Linked DNA regions of Homo sapiens. The protein of the gene in region 1 interacts with the protein of each later gene in a pairwise test. Each region holds a gene or a part of one and is shown on either strand. Other genes may lie near its edges.

What was found.
Region 2: the proteins of CCDC141 (region 1) and TSC22D2 interact in a two-hybrid assay, tested with the Homo sapiens proteins (one study listed by BioGRID).
Region 3: the proteins of CCDC141 (region 1) and PIAS4 interact in binary tests that used the Homo sapiens proteins (3 or more experiments, as listed by UniProt).

The regions. Positions count from the first base shown.
Region 1 is NC_000002.12:178,868,500-178,872,153, reverse strand, and holds part of CCDC141 (coiled-coil domain-containing protein 141), read left to right. Parts: coding exon 1-21; intron 22-601; coding exon 602-727; intron 728-2,848; coding exon 2,849-3,037; intron 3,038-3,654. UniProt on the Homo sapiens protein: Plays a critical role in cortical radial and GnRH neurons migration during brain development. Regulates cortical radial migration by negatively controlling the activity of histone deacetylase 6 (HDAC6) and promotes centrosome maturation.
Region 2 is NC_000003.12:150,453,292-150,456,945, forward strand, and holds part of TSC22D2 (TSC22 domain family protein 2), read left to right. Parts: intron 1-3,654. UniProt on the Homo sapiens protein: Reduces the level of nuclear PKM isoform M2 which results in repression of cyclin CCND1 transcription and reduced cell growth.
Region 3 is NC_000019.10:4,024,699-4,028,352, forward strand, and holds part of PIAS4 (E3 SUMO-protein ligase PIAS4), read left to right. Parts: intron 1-3,447; coding exon 3,448-3,489; exon of another isoform or gene 3,490-3,491; coding exon of another isoform or gene 3,492-3,499; intron 3,500-3,654.

The DNA.
Region 1 (3,654 bases):
TTCAAAGAGCAACTTAAAAAGGTGAGGCAAGGAACAATGGGATGTGAAAAGGAATGAAATTCCGACACAGGCTAACATGAGCGAACCTTGAAAACACTAGCTAAGTGAAATAAGCCAAACACAAAAGGATAAATATCGTGTGATTCCACTTATAAATGAGGTCCCTGTAGTCAAACTCATGGAGGCAGAAAGCAGAATGTAGGTTACCAGGGACTGGGAGAGAGAGGGAGGGAATGGGGAGCTGTTAAATGGGTACAGAGTTTCTGTTTGGGATGATAAACAAGTTCTGGAGGTGGTTGGTGGTGATGTTGATTGCACATTGATGTGAATGTATTAAATATCATGCCTCTGAACTGTACACCCCAAAATGGTAAACATGGTAACTTTTGTTATGTGTATTTTACCACAATAAAACCAAAAAAGGCAGCAGAAACCAAGGGCCTTACTTCTTGGTGGTTTAGAACCCTGAGCTCATGCCACATCCTGAGTGTTTTCATGGGGTTTGAAAAATTTGATCACACTCTGCGTCATACCTAGAATGATCAAATTTGCTGGAGATGTCAAAGAAAATGCATGTGTAACTGTCCAATATTTATTTCAGACTTCTCACAACTTAAAACTTCTTCAGGAAGCACTTATGCCTGTGTCTGCACTTGACCTCGGAGGGAGCCTCCAGTTCATTTTAGATCTACGACAAAAATGGAATGACATGAAGCCTCAGTTCCAGGTGAAGAAATATATTGCTGGATTTGGGTGAATGGAAAAAATACTTAAAACTGTTTGGTTGCAGTTTACCTGATTAATTGTAACAGGCTGGTGAATTTCTATTTTTTTAAACAAAAGTATTGCTTGTCTAAAAATCCACTGTAGAGACATTTTTCTTACTTTTTTCCTGCATTCTTTTGAATTTGATGATATACCAGCATTAGGGCTATACAATGTCCTAAATAGATTTTTATATTAGATTTTTAAAATTCACATGGCTAATTAAACTAGTAATATATTTATCCTATATTTTCACTCTAATTCTTTTCCTTGGGAGTGCAGAGGTGTTTTAAATTGAGACATCTCAGAACAAGGATGGGCAACCTCGGACCCAGAGGCTCTGCTGCCCTGGGTCCCTGAGGTGACCACTGTTATGTCACTGTCCTCACCCACCAGCACCCCAGGCACGTACCATCACCCCAGGAATTTTGCTGTGCCCTCCACTCCACCTTTCAGGATATGAGCAATAAAACCATGAGTCATGTTCCTGACCCTGACTGCTTAACACAGTCCCTATTTCCCCACCTCCTGCCTCTCCAAAATGTGACACAACCGCCAAAAATTGCCACCTGCTAGTCACATTATACTTCTGCCTGGATTCTTATGCTTTGCTGCAAAATTTAGATACCTGTGTTTCTAGCTGTCACTGCTTCATAAATGTGGGCTTCAAAGAATCCCAGAATCAGAATATTGAAGATTCCTTTAGGGAATATCTAATTGTAGGTTCCTTTAAGACAAAAACCGATGTAAGTATAACCACCGCACCTGCTACACAGAAACACACCCACCATTGTAATCCACAGCAAACTCTTATAAAACTCTCAGCAAATGTGACTGGCCTATATTAGGCTCTTTAATACACCCTGCGTTATCTGCTTATATGCATTTTGTTTGTGTGCACGTTTGCATGTACGTGTAAGTTCCTCTAAATCAGGACCATTGTCACACCTCTTTAGCCCTGTCACTGTGATGCACATATATTTAATGCCCAAATGCTTGAACTTGAAGACCCTTTTTAGGTCACTCTTCTGAAAATTATCTCCTTAGTCTAAATCATTTCCATTACTTTTACCTTTCATACAAAAGATCTACACTTGAAATTATAGTAGCATTCTCTATCTTTCTCTCACTGTCTTTTTTTTTTTTTTTTTTTTTTTGAGACAGAGTCTTACTCTGTTGCCCAGGCTGGAGTGCAGTAGCACAATTTTATCTTGCTGCAGCCTCCGCCTCCCAGGTTCAAGTGATTCTCGTGTCTCAGCCTCTGGGGTAGCTGGGATTACAGGTGTGTGCCACCACGCCCAGCTAATTTTTGTATTTTTGGTAGAGACAGGGTTCTGCCATGTTGGCCAGGCTGGTCTTGAACTCCTGCCTTCAGGTGGTCCACCCTCCTTGGCCTCCCAAAGTGCTGGGATTACAGGCGTGAGCCACCATGCCCAGCCTATAGTAGCATTCTCTTTAAAGTATGCCCCTTTTGCAAATTCTATTCCAGAATCTGGATTATCTGAGCAATGCTGGGTGAAAGGCAAGGCAGTTTATCCCTCCCTACATGTGATGGCTATTTGTGGATCATGGGATGACCGCTTTTGAAGCAGTCTATCTACTATGCTGTTCAGCTGGTGGTTCATTCTGATCATTCTTTTATCACAGAGCACAAGTTATTCCCCTGATATATTTTTACACCCATCTTCTCATGGTGTTTTTACCATACCACCTGATTCTAGTCTGTATTAAATATCAGAGATAATCATGGGGCTGCATAAAATATCTAAAATACATTTACTTAACAGATGAATAGAATATTTGGTATGCCATAGAAATGTATGACTTTGTTTTTCCACCTAGCTTTGAAACCTTTGTTGCATTGCTCATGCTATTTTTTTTTGTAAATTTCTCAGGTGAGTATAGAAAAACATATCTCTATCATCCAGCACAATGCCCAAATATTTTGGAGGGTGGGGGCATTCATAATAAGTATTTGTTAACAAATGAAAGAGTGATTCATTGTTTAGACCTTTATATTGTCAGTTGTAAAGTAAAAAAGTTCTTTAATAGCAAGATTTTTTTATTGCTTTCAATGTTTTAGCAATTGAATGATGAGGTTCAGTACATTATGAAAGAATCAGAGGAGTTAACTGGCAGAGGAGCCCCTGTAAAAGAAAAGTCTCAACAACTGAAGGACCTTATTCACTTCCATCAAAAACAGAAAGAGAGAATCCAGGATTACGAGGATATCCTGTACAAGGTGGTCCAGTTCCATCAAGTCAAGGAAGAGGTAAGGCTTAGAAGGGATGTCTGAAAAATCCTGAGTTTTAAACTATGCAATTAAAAATGAATTATTATATAATAAATAAAGGCCAAATTGTGTCTTCTAGTATCAGAAGTTTACACAATCTGGCCCCTATCTTTTCTCTCACTATGTTCCTATTCTTCCTTTTGTTCCAGCCAAACTGAGCTCTTTGTCCCTCAGAGATGATGCACACATCCCTAACTCCAACCCTTGACTCTCAGGCTGCCATTATTTGACAAGTCTGTCTTTCTCCTCCCTCTTATCTAAATCCTATACCTCCTTCCAACAATCCTACCTCACTTGGAATGATTTCTCTCTCTTCAAAAATCCTACAGCTCATTGTGTATTCCACATATCTTGCATTTTACTATCTTGATTCTTAATTACTTTTTGATAAGCATAGCTTCCCGCCCACCCCCTCTCCCCCGCCCCAATTCAATTCTAGGCTCTTTGAGGGCGAAAACCAAGTTAGATTTTTTTTTTTTTTTTTTTTGCACTTCAAGTACCTGACATCATGGAGTGCTATTTGTTGGTGGCATTTTTACAAAAACTTCATAGTTATGGTCTCTATTAACATAAGATGGAGGAATATTCGTTAATAT
Region 2 (3,654 bases), on another chromosome or scaffold:
TGATTCTGCTTCAGTTGATCTTTCTCATTTTAAAAGAGTCAAATCTCACTATGATAACTTTGAACATAATAGAAAACATCTTGATACCCTCATTGAAACAGTATTTTTAAACCATATTCTGGGATCTTGAAATAAAATAGTCTCTTATTTGCTTAAGACTACCATATTGGTATCTCCATCGTAAATATGGCTAAAGCAGTGGTTCTCATACTTTAGTTTCTATCTGAATCGCCTAGAGAGTTTGTTAAAATAGATTACGGGGCCCCGCCCCAAGAGTAAATCTGGGGTGGGTCCAAATATTTACATTTCTAACAAGGTCTTGGTGGGTCCAAATATTTACATTTCTGACAAGTTTCCAGGTGATGCTGATGATTCTGGTTCAGGGACTACACTTTGAGAACTGATTTATCTGAACTCAAAAAATTTTAATGCCTTCCTCATATGAACCATTAATTGTTTCAAATCTATCATATCTAATTACTATCAGTATGCATTGAGTTACTATGTGCTAAGCACTGAATTCACTTATTCACAAAGATGAAGAAGTTATGGAACCTTTCTCAAAGAGCTCAATCTAATAGGATCAACAGTGGTAGTATTACAATACTCAAAGTAATCACTGTCTGTATTGAGTGCTCAGTGTGCCAAGTACTATGCATTATGTAAACTCATTTAATCCTCACAATTGGCATATAATCCTTATTTTAAATGAAAAAACTGAGGTCTAGAAAGGTTAAATAATTTCCCAGAATTCATATAGTGAGTATATGGAGGAGCCAGAATTTGCTATTCTGCCTTTTTGCACTATAAAAAGTTTGCGAAGATTGGTAGACCCCAGAAAGGATGGAGTAATTGGCTCTACCTTAGAAAATCAAACAGCATCACAGAAGAGATGGCACTGGAGCATCTTAAGGGACAGGTCTAAGATAGCCAGATGAATTGGAACTGTGAGCATTTCCAGCTGAGGGAGCAGTTTCTGCAAAGCCAAGGAAACCCGAGAGAACATATGTTCCACAGACTACAAATAGTTGTATAAGACCATAACACAATAGGCAGATGGAGTATAAGAGGAAAACAGACTGTATAAGGCAGAGGTCAAAGTCATAAAGAATTTTATATGCCAGGCTAAAAAGTTTTAAAAATAGAATTAGGCTTCTTAATTTTTCCTCCTATAACTTTCATTTGTAAGCCAGCAGTTCTCAAAGCATAGTCAGACAGTAGATTCCACATCATCTGGGAACTTGTTAGAAATGCAGATTCCTGGTTCCATGCCTACTGAATCAGAAACTCTGAGTGGGGGAGCCCAGCAACCTGAGTTTTAACAAGACCTCCAGATGATTCTGGTGCATGCTAAAGTTTGAGACCCCTGCAGTAGGTTATAGAATTCTTGAATAATAGCCTTCAAGATAGTTAAAGGTCACTATAGTGGTAGTAATTATATTTGACACTGATTTATTCTATTAGAGTACAACACCTAACAGTTGAAATATTAACACCATTTAAGGGATACATCTTCATCATGATCTATTTATACCTTGCAAACCTGTTTCTTCTGTTGTCATAAAAGAGATCTTAGGACAAGAGTTTGTTAGGTCAGCATTCAAAGAATAGCATGCTAACTATTCTTCCTTAGCTATGGGAATCATTCTAAAACTCGCTGACTGATTTTAATTATCAAAAAAAAACCCCAGTAATTTTTGTTTTTTTTACTGCTTGTTAATACATAAAACTGATGTTGTAGTTAGTATTTAAGGTGTGCTATTTAAACCAAATGTGTTGAAGGAATCAAATGATTTAAGTCATGACATGACTTAAAAGTAATTCAATCTTTCCTTGTCATGTCAATAAAAATATAGAAAGTATAATCTGGGATTCCCAAGCAAACTAATTTAAATGCCTGTCACCGTCTTTTTTGCCAAAATGTGTTCAGTATTTGTGGTGAATATGTCTGCATGGTATCTGGCACTGAAGTATATACTAAAGCGTTATGGTTGACTTAGTGGTTCTGTAGTTTATAGTTACATATAGTCATACTTTGCACAGCTCACTAAAAGCATTTAAAGCCCAGCACATATAAAGTATTTGTTAATGATCCATAAATCCTTTCTAGATATTAGATATACAAAACCTCTTTTCATCTTAGAAATAGTAGCAGCAAGAAGTGAAGGTAGTATGCTGTAATTAATGTGGTTAATGCTCAAATAAACAAACGTAGTTTCCCATGTAATGATTCAAGATTTCAAGGATTTAGAAGTGGAAAGTCCATTGAGGCATTGACATCAACCCCTTGTTTTACAGATGGGGAAACTCAGATCCAGGGAAGTTAAATAGGTGATTTGCTGATGTCCCATAGGAAGTGAATAGCAGGATATCACAGGACAGGATATTTCTGAGCCTCAATCTGATACAACATTATGGGTCCACACCATCTAAAGTAAAGTAGTTTCCAGGTATTTTAGCACTAAAATCTTAGGTGGAGTATACTTTATGAAGAATATTTAGTAACATATAAAAAATTATCTTTTCGTATTGATACAATAAGCTACAGTATCAGATTTTTCTTTACAAGAGTAATTTTTAAAAACCTAATAACTGTTTTTAGAAATAAAATTCATTAAAAAACAATAAAAGGGTATAAATTCCAGCTATTCTTACTACTTAATACATGGTAGAATATAAACCACCAAAGAGGACAATTAGCCTTCTGTGTTATTATCATACAATTGCTAAGGTGATATTTGAACTTGGAATGTGCTTACAGGCTGGATAACTTTTCAGTTATTCCCAAGAAGAACTGATCTAAACCACACATACCTTATAGGTGATTTTTGCCAGCAAGTAACCTACAGTCAAATACATGTAGGTCTGCCAGAATGTTGTTTCTTTTTGTTTTTTTTTTTTTTGTTTTTTTTTGAGATGGAGTTTTGCTCTTGTTGCCCAGGCTGGATTGCAATGGCGTGATCTCGGCTCACTGCAGCCTCTGCCTCCTGGGTTCAAGTGATTCTCTTGCCTCAGCCTCCTGAGTAGCTGATTACAGGCACCCGCCCCAAGCCTGGCTAATTTTTTTTGTATTTTTAGTAGAGATGGGTTTTCACCACGTTGGCCAGGCTGATCTGGAACTCCTGACCTCAAGTGATCCACCTTCCTTGGCCTCCCAAAGTGCTGGGATTACAAGCGTGAGCCACCACGCCCGGCTGAATGTTGAGTTTCTTGTTAACCAATCCTACCCAAAGACTTTCTGAACCATTTTTAGAAGCCATTAAGTTTTTTTTAAAAAACTAGATGTTAAAGTATAAAACTTATACCAGAAAAGTCTTACTAAGAGGAGGGACTAGAAAAAAAAAAGTCAAGCCATCATCTGAATTTTACTACAATAAGTAATTATTGGAATTTCTACATGAAAGGCAATTAGAATGTATAGTTGGTTAATGTAGAAATTTAAGAGATACGGAGAAGACACTGCCCATTTAAAATGTATCCTTTTAAAACCACTGAACAGAGAAATTCTTAATACAATTGAGAGTTAGTTTTAAAGTAGCATACATGTATTACAGGCAAATTAGAAATGTTGGCACTACAAAGGACCTGTAGAAATCATCTATTTACTGAGACTTTCATTTTAGAAATGAGAGCTTTGAGTACTGAAATTGTCAG
Region 3 (3,654 bases), on another chromosome or scaffold:
GCCCGCCTTAGGAATTTATTCTGGTGTCCAGCATGAGCAGGAAGTTAAGTCAGGTGTTTTTTTGTTTTTTTTTTTTGAGACTGAGTGTAGCTCTTGTTATCCAGGCTTCCAGGCTGGAGTGCAGTGGCGCGATTTTGGCTTCCTGCAACCTCCACCTGCTGGATTCAAGCAATTCTCCTGCCTCAGCCTCCCAAGTAGCTGGGATTACAGGCGCTCACTACCACGCCCGGCTAATCTTGTATTTTTAGTAGAGATAGGGTTTTGCCATGTTGATCAGGCTGGTCTCGAATTCCTGACTCAGGTGATTCACCCACCTCAGCCTCCCAGAATGCTGGGATTACAGGCGTGAGCCACTGCGCCTGGCGGAAGTCAGGTTTTTTCCCAGTTATATAATGAATACGGGGTTTCCCCCTCCATACCGTGGATAGTGAGGTGGGATGGTTCCCTCGGTGGGGCCGTCCTGGGCACTGCAGGCTGCTGAGCAGCATCCCTGGCCTCCACCTGCTCTGTGCCAGGAACACCCCTAACTCTGACAACCACAGATGTCCCCAGACACAGCTCGGTGTCGCCTGGGGCAGGGTCGTCCTCAGATGAGGACGGTTGAACTGTGGCAGGTGAGGGGCCAGTGTGGCTGCCCTGCGCTCTGCTCCTCCCTCAGTCTCTCCGAGGCTGTACTGCCTCCAGCTGAGACAGATTCCTGCTGGGCAGGCTAATGGTAGGTGCTGGGCCCTTAGGACAGGGGAGGCCATTTGCCCAGGTCACCCCTGAGTCCATGGCAGGGCTGGGCCGGGCGCCCCCATTTAATGCCTAGCTTCTCGTGCCCAGCCGCTTCAGACCCACCGCCCCCACCTGCTGTGGGGCCAGGTTCCTGGGGCCTCCCAGCCTGGCCCTCACACCTAGTAAGGGTTCAGATCCAGCCGAGCCAGGCTTGGCCATGGAGGCCTCTCTGCCTGGGTGACCCAAGGTGGCGACCTCGTCTTTCTCAGCCTCGTCTTCCTTGTCTATGTACCTGGGTCAGCACAGCCTCCACCTGCACTGGGTCCCTGCTGCAGAGTGCTCAGAGCCAGCCACACAGTATAAAAAAATCAGTTTGGGCTGGGCACGGTGGCTCACAACTGTAATCGCAGCCCTTTGGGAGGCCAAGGCAGGTGGATCACGAGGTCAGAAGATCGAGACCATCTTGGCTAACACAGTGAAACCCCGTCTCTACCAAACATACAAAAAAATTAGCCGGGTGTGGTGACGGGCGCCTGTAGTCCCAGCTACTCGGGAGGCTGAGGCAGGAGAATGGCGTGAACCCGGGAGGCGGAGCTTGCAGTGAGCCGAGATCCTGCCACTGCACTCCAGCCTGGGCAACAAAGGGAGACTCCGTCTCAAAAAAAAAAAAAAAAAAAAGTTTGGTTTTCTCCTCAGAAAGCTTCTGGACATTTCTTTTTCTTTTTCTTTTTTTTTTTTGAAATGAAGTCGCTCTGTCGCCAGGCTGGAGTGCAGTGGCGTGATGTCGGCTCACTGCAACTTCTGCCTCCCAGGTTCAAGCGATTCTCCTGACTCAGCCTCCCGAGTAGCTGGGACTACAGGTGCGCACCACCACGCCTGGCTAATTTTTGTATTTTTAGTAGAGACAGGGTTTCACCATGTTGGCCAAGATGATCTCAATCTCTTGACCTCGTGATCCACCCCACATCTGCCTCCCAAAGTGCTGGGATTACAGGCGTGAGCCACCCTGCCCATCCCACATTTCTTTTTCTTATGTCGAGATATGATTTGCATACCATAGAATATACAGTTTTTAAGGGTGTCATCGAGTGGGTTCTCGTGGATCAGTAGGTATCGCAGCTCCCACCACTGCCTAGTCTCAGGGCAGTCATGTCCATCCCCAGCAGCTGCCACCCTTCATCCACTGGCCCCCACGCATCCCCTCCTGTCTGTAAATGGGTCTGTCCTGGACATTTCATAGAAGTGGAATCACATACTATGTGGCTTTCGTTTATTATTATTATTTAAGACAGAATCTCACTCTGTCGCCCAGGCTGGAGTGCAGTGTCGCGATCTCAGTTCACTGCAATCTCCGCCTCCCAGGTTCAAGTGATTCTCTTGCCCCAGACTTCTGACTAGCTAGGATTACAGGCGTGCACCACCACACTCAGCTAATATTTGTATTTTTTTTGAGACAGAGTCACACTCCGAGGCCCAGGCTGGAGTGCAGTGGCACGATCTTGGCTCACTGCAAGCTCTGCCTCCTGGGTTCACGCCATTCTCCTGCCTCAGCCTCCCAAGTAGCTGGGACTACAGGCACCCGCCACCACGCCTGGCTGATTTTTTTTTTTGTATTTTTAGTAGAGACGGGGTTTCACCATGATAGCCAGGAGGGTCTCGATCTCCTGACCTTGTTATCCGCCCGCCTCGGCCTCCCAAAGTGCTGGGATTACAGGCGTGAGCCACTGCACCTGGCCTAATTTTTGTATTTTTAGTAGAGACGAGGTTTCACCATATTGCCCAGGCTTGTCTCGAACTCCTGACCTCAAGTGACCCACCCACCTCCGCCTCCCAAAGTGCCAGGGTTACTGGCGTGAGCCACCTGCCTTGTGTGTCCTTTCGTGTCTGGCGTCTCTCACTGGGTGGGACATCCTCACGGTGCACCTGTGCTGAGGCCTGGGTCTGAGCCTGGCTCCTTTCCATGGCTGGGTCGCGTCCCGTGCGTGTTGGTCCTTCGGTCTACGGAAGGACACTCAGGATGCTGCTAGTTTGTGGCTGTTGTGGTCAGTTCTGCTGTGAACATCCACGGATGCGTCTTTGGGTAGATAGACTTTTTCCTCTTCTTCTGGGGGCGTTTCTTGTTAAAGTTTATCCTCAGGTGTTACTGGTTTTTGTTTTTTTTTTTTTGGAGAGTGTTTCTCTTTGTTACCCAGGCTGGAGTGCAGTGGTGCAATCATAGCTTGCAGCCTGTGCCTCCATGGGTTCAGACGATCCCCCTGCCTCAGCCTCCAAGCAGCTGGGACCACAGGTGTGCACCACCACGCCTGGGTAATTTTTTGTGGAGACAGTTTCACCATGTTGCGCAGGCTCGTCTCAAATTCCTGGGCTCAAGAGCTCCGCCAGCCTTGACCTCCCAAACTGGGTGTTTTCTTGCCATTGTGAGCCAGCTGCTAGATTCCCGCATGCACGTTTTAGCTATGTTTCTTCGCAGGGAGAGGCACCTGGCTGCCCTCTCTGGTTCAGGGTTTTGCTGTGGATTCTGTTGCATTTTCCAGGGAGGCCAGCCCCTCTCCTGACCTCACAGCCACTCCTCTCACCCAGCCCGTACAAAAGAGTCCTGGGCCTCAGTTTCCCAGCTCTGGGGGAGGGAGCCTTGTGGTGTGGCGGTCTCCACCTTGTCGGGTGGGCTGGGGTCACGCCCTCCTCACTCAGCTCTCCTTTCCTTTCCTCTGGTTTGCTCCACACCCACAGGGAACTGCAGCCCGGAGTTAAAGCCGTGCAGGTCGTCCTGAGGTATGCCCAGGTGTGCCCGCGACCCCAGGGCTGGACCCCCAGCCACCCGCCCCTCCCCGCCCCCCAGTCCTGGCCCAGGCCCTTCTCAGTCTCCCCTGCTAACAGCAGAGCCCAGCTCTCCTCACCTGCTGTCTATCCCTGTCTGGGGATACATCACCATCCGAC